Homo sapiens: one gene and its partner. The protein of the gene in region 2 interacts with the protein of the main gene of each other region in a pairwise test. Each region holds a gene or a part of one and is shown on either strand. Other genes may lie near its edges.

The links.
Region 1: the proteins of CPNE2 (region 2) and KATNBL1 interact in a two-hybrid assay, tested with the Homo sapiens proteins (one large-scale study listed by BioGRID and IntAct).

Annotation. Positions count from the first base shown.
Region 1 is NC_000015.10:34,203,350-34,207,373, forward strand, and holds part of KATNBL1 (KATNB1-like protein 1), read right to left. Parts: intron 1-4,024.
Region 2 is NC_000016.10:57,144,583-57,148,869, forward strand, and holds the end of CPNE2 (copine-2), read left to right. Parts: intron 1-1,502; coding exon 1,503-1,739; intron 1,740-2,968; coding exon 2,969-3,076; 3' UTR 3,077-3,787; downstream 3,788-4,287.

The DNA of each region.
Region 1 (4,024 bases), on a different chromosome or scaffold from region 2:
AACCACCAACTCCTTTAGACTATATAATAGCTTCCTAAATGCTTCAGCCACACTGGCCTTCTGTCCTTCAACATTTCAAACTTATTTCCATTTTGTGGCTGAGCCATTCTTTCTGCTTAAAATATTCCTCCCACACACTCACCACCCAATCAAGAATAACCCCACCCTCACTTACAATCATTCTCTATAGCAGTACCCTGTATTTTTCCCCCACCACATTTATCACCATCTGGAAATTAGCTTATGCACTTATTGCCCATGACCTCTCACTAGACTGTGAGCTCCATGAGAGCAGGAACCATGTTCATTGTACCTAGAATAGATACACTTATTCTGGTATCTATTTTTTCTTTTTTTGAGATGGAGTCTTGCTCTGTCTCCAGGCTGGAGTGCAGTAGCACGATCTCAGCTCACTGCAACTAACTCAAGGACAGAAAACCAAACACTGCATGTTCTCACTCATAAGTGGGAGTTGAACAATGAGAACACATGGATACAGGGAGGGGAACATCACACACCGGGCCCTGTTGGGGGGTGGGGGGCTAGGGGAGGGATAGCATTAGGAGAAACACCTAATGTAGATGACGGGTTAATGGGTACAGCAAACCACCATGGTATGTGTATACCTATGTAACAAAGAGCACATTCTGCACACGTACCTCAGAACTTAATTAAAAAAAAAAAAAAAAAAGAGCCAGTGTGTGTGATTCACTCCCATTACCTTACCTCTAACCATCAACAGGTAACCAACAACAGGCCAGAAAGTTAAGACTCCCCTGTCCACATTGCTAAGCAAGGAAAACTAGGAGCACAGGCCCAGACAGCTCATGTGTAACATGAACTGAGGAAAAATAAACCTCTGAAATAAGCCACTGAGATTTGGGTGCTGTTTGTTACTACAAAATCACCTAGTCCATCCAGACTGATGAACTGTTCAAGCAATGCTGTGGGCACAGAATGATTCAGTCAGTCCCACTAAGTGGTTACTTGCAATGTAAACTGATGTCACTAGATATACATATTTAATTCTTTTCTTATTACAGTTGTCCCTCAGTATCTGAGTACGGCTGGTTCCAGGACCACCTCAGATACCAAAATTCGTGGATACTCATGTCCCCTAGTCAGCCTTCCGTATTCATGGCTTCCATACAGAGAACCCATGGATGCTGAGGGTAGACTGTATTACCTAGTTTCCAACAGGTCTGTCAACAAGGATCAAAAAAACTGTTTACATGGAGTTTTAAGGAATTCTTGTCTCTAATGCTATTTTTCACTAAATGGATAATTCACTCAAACAATGAATGCCACCCATACAGGCTTCTTGAAAAACCATCTGCCAGACTTTCTTCAACTGGAAACATACTTTGTAGGCAAGAATAACTGCTTTTTGTTTCCTTATTTTCTATACCAACTATTCAATAATTAAGTAATTATTGAGTACAGGCCACTGTAAGGGAAAAGAATAAAAAGGTAGTTGGCTAAAATGCAGAAGTCCCTGAATGCTAGGTCAGGAATTTGGACTTTATCTTGTAGACAAAATAGACTTACTGAGAAACTTTGTATACGAATTATATGTGAAAAAACTATTCTTGACGATTATTTATATGGCAGTTGTGGAACAGGAAGGCAAAGAGGGACAGTTTTTTTTTTTTTTTTTTCCTTTAAGATGGAGTCTCGCTCTGTTGCCAGGCCGGAGTGCAGTGGTGCAATATCGGCTCACTGCAACCTCCGCCTCCCGGGTTCAAGTGACTCCCCTGCCTCAGCCTCCTGAGTAGCTGGGGCTACAGGTGTGCACCACCACACCCAACTAATTTTTTGTATTTTAGTAAAGACGGGGTTTCACTGTGTTGACCAGGATGGTCTCGATCTCTCGACCTTGTGAACCGCCCACGTAGGCCTCCCAAAGTGCTGGGATTACAGGCATGAGCCACTGTGCCTGAAGAGTGCCAGTTTTTAAATGCTATGCCATGAATCCTCCATGGATGAAAGGCCAAATTTTAATCAATATATATAATTCATTTTTGCTACAACAGTAAATGTCCTGTTATTGATTATATTAAGTGTAGCACAGGGAATGGCTAGGACATAGGTTTTTGAAAGTAAGAGTAAAATGCATACTGAAATGTCAAGCTGGCACTTAAGTATGTGGTGATGGTCAAAATCTTACTCTGTGAGTAAGAGGGGCAGCCAGGGCAGTAATCGCTTAATAGTTCTGAAAGGCGATTAAGTGAACAATAGACACTTTGCTACTGCTGGGAGGTATTTTTACATTGTAGGAATGATGGGTTGTACTCTGGTTGGTTTGCATTTTGAATTCCTTCAAGATACTCAGAGCATCTGCGCAGTACTCCAACAAATTTTATCTTTCCCCAGCAACCCATTCCTTCATTTCTTCACTCGTTCAACAAATATTAAGTACATGTTACAGACTAATTACTATTCTACGCACTAGGGAAACATCAGTGGACCAAACAAAAATCCCTGCTGTACTGAAGCTTATATTCTACTGGCCTTTAAATTCCATCCTAAGATTTCTTCCTCAATCCTATCATATAAGTAGCTTTTAAAAATGCCTTTAGGAGAAATAATCTATGATTAATCACACTAAGATGTAAAAGACTATCCAGAGGCCTCTTCCCCACAGGTCTCCCTCCTCACCAAAGAACACCCCTCAATAAGTAACTATTTTATAGATTCTCGACCTTGGAGATAATTTCAGATGAGATTAAATCACTTGCCCAAAAACCCTTAGTTACTAACAGGCTTAGCGTTGCGACTTACAGTAATAGTGCCTTTCCCACTGTAACACCAAGCTGTGCATCTTAAGAGTATGCTAGTGGGCAGAGGAGATGCTAGAATGAGCATCTCATGACTCATACATAGGTGGTAGGTTTCTGGGTGACTTGCTCAAGGCAAAAAGAATTTCAGACAGTATATAAAACTGAAGGAGAGAGAGGTAGTTACAGGAAGCAAAAAAGGGAGTCCTTTCAAAATACCTTTTCTCTCATTTCTACCCTCATTATGCTCCAAGAACAAGAATGGTAAATATAACGCAGAAGTCTCCAAAGTTAAGGGGTATTAAGCTGGTAGTGAAAAAATACTTAGATGAGCAAGAAATAGTAAACACAGCATTTGAACCTGGCAAAGAAAAGTCAAATTACGCCGGGCATGGTGGCTCACGCCTGTAATCCCAGCACTTTGGGAGGCCGAGGTGGGCGGATCACCTGGGTCAGGAGTTCAAGACCAGCCTGGCCGACATGGCGAAACCCCGTCTCAACTAAAAATACAAAAATTACCCGGGCGTGGTGGTGGGTGCTTGTAATCCCAGCTACTCAGGAGGCTGAGGCAGGAGAATAGCTTGAACCCGGGAGGTGGAGGTTGTGGTGAGTCAAGATCTTGCCACTGTACTCCAGCCTGGGAGACAAGAGCAAGACTCCGTCTCAAAAAAAAAAAAAGAAAAGAAAAGTCAAATTACACCCTTCCAATTTAAAAAGTGTATGCTCCCAGTAAAAGTACCATTTGTATTAGGTTTAAGGTGTTTAATTAAAAAACATTATATTCCTAAATACATTTTCCAGAAAGCACCAAATTAACTAACATGGATCAACAAATATAATGATTGATAAAACATCAACATAATACTGACTAGTGTAATGTTATGATGCATCTTGTTGTTACTAGACAATACTTTTTTTTTTTTTTTTCCCTGAGACAGGGTCTTGCTTTGTCACCCAGGCTGGAGTGCAGTGATATGATCATGGCTCACTGCAGCCTCCAACTTCTGGACTCAAGGAATCCTCTCACCTCAGCCTCCCAAGCAGCTGTGACTACAGGCGCATGCCACTACACCTGCCTAATTTTATTTTATTTTATTTTTGAGATGGAGTCTCACTCTGTCGCCCAGGCTGGAAGGCAGTGGTGCGATCTCGGCTCACTGCAACCTCTGCCTCCTGGGTTCAACCGATTCTCCTGCCTCAGCCTCCCAAGTAGCTGGAACTACAGGCGTGTGACACCACGCCCAGCT
Region 2 (4,287 bases):
GATGTTACGGATGGGGGAAACTGAGCTTCCCCTAAAGGGGTCAGCGGGTACTAAGGACAGAGCTGAGCTGAAAATAAGTTCTTGGCTGGGCGCGGTGGCTCACGTCTGTAATCCCAGCACTTTGGGAAGCCAAGGCGGGTGGATCACCTGAGGTCAGGAGTTTGAGACCAGCCTGGCCAACGTGGTGAAACCCCAACTCTACTGAAAATACAAAAATTAGTCGGGCATGGTGGTGGGTGCCTGTAATCCCAGCTACTTGGGAGGTTGAGGCAGGAGAATCACTTGAACCCAGGAGGTGGAGGTTGCAGTGAGCCCAGGTTGTGCCAGTGTGGGCGACGGAGCGAGACTCAGTCTAAAAAAAAAAGAAAAAAGAGTTCTTGGCCAATTTGGAATCCTGGGCCCTCACCCTCAGATGGTCCAATGAGCCTTCCTGCACTTCACTCAGGCACACCCCGGCCCCACTTCACAGTTTGTATTTTATATATCTCCCACACTAATTATTCAATTTTTAAAATTTAATTTATAAAGAAACTCTATATCCCATTGTAAATGAAAAAAAGCAGTATCACTTGCCATAAATAGAGAGTAACAAAAATAAACACAACAAGCTGTACAATGGTATTAAAGCCTAGCTGGAGACTATTGTCTCCTCAAGCTCTGGGCTTCCTGCCTTCCCTTTCCGTTGATAAGGAAGCTTAGCAAATGTTAGAGAGACGTGAAAGACACAGTAGTACCAAACCAAGACTTGCTCCTGGGTGCAGTTCATAGAATTGAAAGGCCACTGCAAACCAGTCCTCTTCCGGGGTGACTTGATGACTTGATGGTGCTCAGTGCTGTGTTTGGGATGTGACTCAAATCCACTTATTTGTCAGCAGAGTCCCACACTCCTGGAAGCCCTGGCCCAGACGACCTGCTTTAGCTCCCGCAAGGTGTCTCAGATTGTCGTGTTGAGTAGGGAATGGAGGGGGTCACAGGTGCCCATGCCCAGGTGCAGCAGAGAGGGGGAGACCGGTCCCAGAGCAGCCCATCAGCCAGATGAGTCCCCCTGCGCCAGCCGTGGGCCTGTCGGGAATGCAGCTGACTGGGCCACTGCCACGTCAGGCACATTATCTGCAACAACTCCCACTTTGCAGATGAAGAAACTGAGGCACTACGAGTCAAGTCAGTTGCCTAGAGTCCCACAGTATAGCAACTGGCAAGGCCAGGCCCAGAGTCCAGGGCTCTCAGAGGCCCCAAGGGGGAGTCTAAGATAACACACAGGGCAGGAGGGGAGAGCAGTTTGTACTTCCTGCTGTGACCAGGTCAGAGTTTAGAGCATGAGAGGCCTGCAGGGGTGGGGTGCTGAGAGCAGGACGCATAGTGAGTTGTCTGGGACTTGGCTGCAGCTGGGTAAGATGCACTGCCTTCCTCCAGGACTCGGAGGGTTTGGGATGAAGGAGGGAGGGAGAAGGGGTGCCAGAGCCTCGACCTTGCTGAGTGCCCCGTTGGCCCCCTCCCTGCAGCAGTACTTCATCCTCCTCATCATCACGGACGGGGTCATCAGTGACATGGAGGAGACACGGCATGCCGTGGTGCAGGCTTCCAAGCTGCCCATGTCCATCATCATCGTGGGCGTGGGCAATGCGGACTTCGCTGCCATGGAGTTCCTGGATGGGGACAGCCGCATGCTGCGCTCCCACACGGGGGAGGAGGCAGCCCGCGATATTGTGCAGTTCGTTCCCTTTCGAGAGTTCCGCAACGTGAGTGTGGGCCTGGGCTGGGAGGGGGCGGTTACAGGATCCCAGCCACCATAGCTCATAATCAAGCTTGAGAGTCTTGGGGTTGTCTGGCCCAATCCTAGACTTCTCCACTCCATTGACTATGCTCTTCTGAGGGCCTGCCATGTGCCAGGCGCCGTGCCAGGCCTTGCCCCGGTGGTGGCCATTGTGATAGTGTGAGCACTTGCTTCCACAAACTGATGGAACATGGAGCCGTGGGCATCTAGCCTGAGGCTCTGGGGCAGGGCTTCCTGGAGGACCTGCCCTCTAGTGGGGTCTGATGAGAGGCTGGGGCTATCCATGTGGTGTAAAGTGCAGGAGGAGAGAGGGGTTTTCCTGATCATCACGCCCCAGCAAGCCCCCTCATTTTGTAGACGGAAAACAAGGCCTCCCAGTCATCTTAGGTTGACCTCCTCTCCCTAAAGCCCTCTGCCTGGGAGAATGGTGTCCCCAGCCTTGTTCCTGGAAGTGGCTCTGGCTTTATTTGCAGGTGATCCCAGATCTGCCCACAAGGAGGCCGGGGTTGGCCTCCTGATCACTGCCCTAGCAGCAGGGTCCATGAGGAGTCCCATAGGGGAGCAGTCTCTCCACTGTACCGCTGTACTGTAATGCCACCCCCATACTGCTGGCTGGGGGCTTAACCCAGCCTCAGCAAGAACTGCCCATGCTGGTTTGCACCCAGTGGCCCTCACCTCTCTTCCCAGCATCCTCTGGGGTTGCCTGCGATGGTTCTACTCCTTCCTCTGGAGCATTCGCTTCCTAAGGACAAACCCTGGGCATCGGTCACCCCTTCATGCACAGGTCGGTGACCGAGTACCTCCATGTGCCTGGCCTGTGGCTGGCTGTTCACTAGTGAACCATACTGTCAGGCCCATTTATTCCCGCCAAGAAGGTGCTCAGGAGATGTTTGCCGGACACATAGGTGCTTCCCGCAGACGGAGTCATCCTAACCCGTTACTCCCAAGCATCTCAAGTGCTCCAGGTAACACTTACACCTAACCTAAAGGAAGGCACTGCGATCAGGGGGAATTTCAGGCCTGGCCTGGGCTGAGATGAGGGATGCCACTTGCAGACAGCCCTGGCCCGCAGCCCTAATTTTGTCCTCAATGGACACCTGCTGTAGCAGCCCTCTGGGCATAGTGCCGCTCACAACTTCCGGTCATTAATCCTTATTCTCTCTCTTCCCCACCCCACCCTCCTCCACCCTGCAGGCAGCAAAAGAGACCTTGGCCAAAGCTGTGCTGGCGGAGCTGCCCCAACAAGTTGTGCAGTATTTCAAGCATAAAAACCTGCCCCCCACCAACTCGGAGCCCGCCTGAGCTCCAGTGCCCAGCAGCAGCATGTCAGCTGAGCCTCCTGCCCTCCCCCAGGAACATGCACGCTCACTCTGCTTCCTTGTGGGTGGCCTTTTTTTACCGATCCCCTTTTTTATTTTTTACAACCGGACCTCCACCCCCAACTTCCTCCAGCCCAGCTGGGCTTCCTTTGTTGGAGTCAACTGTTGATGCTTCCAGGCCAAACTGGCTTCCTCTCCTCCTCTCCCCACCTTTGCCATTCTTAAGTATTGAATGTACTTTGTATAATTTTAGTGGAATTGTTATTGAGAATAAAATTTTTACAATCATAACTGGCTTTTTCCAAGTAACTAGCTGCAGACTCTGATGAAAGAAACATGTCCTTGGTGCATACGTGTCGTAGCCTGCACCTAATTAATTCCTGCTGTTTTTTTAATACTGTGACTGTGTTCTATTTGTTATATGCTCAGGGTAACAAATGAGTTTCAGACGTCCCTGCGTCAGCTCCTTCCTCAGCAGGGACCTGACGGGCTCACTGATCTAAGAAAGGAAATGGAAAATGAAAATCCACCCCACAAGTCTAATAAGTTGGTGTAGTCACTTCTGCATGGGGACATGCATTCCAGATGATAACCTGTTAAATCACTGCCAGTTAACAGTGATAACCTGTTAAACTGGCACAGAACCTGGCACATTGTACAAACTCAATAAATATTCATGGATGAATAGAATGAATGTGCAGGCCCATACCAGTTTCTGACATATCCCTACCCCACAACTGGACAGCAGTCCCAGCCACCCATCTGCTCCTCCTTGGGTCTCCCGGGTGTTTGGGTTGGCCACCTAGAGGTCTGTGAAAGCCTCTCTGGCCTCAGGACCCAAAATGGGGCTGCTTCTGACCCTGCTGTTTCTTCCACATCCCCCTCTCTAGGCTCAGGCCCAGTTTTATGAAACCAGCCAGAGGACCCCTCTCTGAAAGTTCAGCCCCGCTCCCAGGTCCCTCCTTTATTCCACATAACACCTCTTTCTCCTTTATCCACCTGACTCCCGCTTGGACCTCCAGGTAAGCCCCCTGGACACGGGCTTCCGTGTAACCAGTAACAGCTAACCCTCCTATTAAGCACTTTGTTTCCAGCTCCGTGTTCAGTATTTTGCAGGCACTTTTTCTGAGACAGGGTCTCACTCTGTCCCACCCAGGCTGGAGTGCAGTGGTGTGATCTCGGCTCACTGCAGCC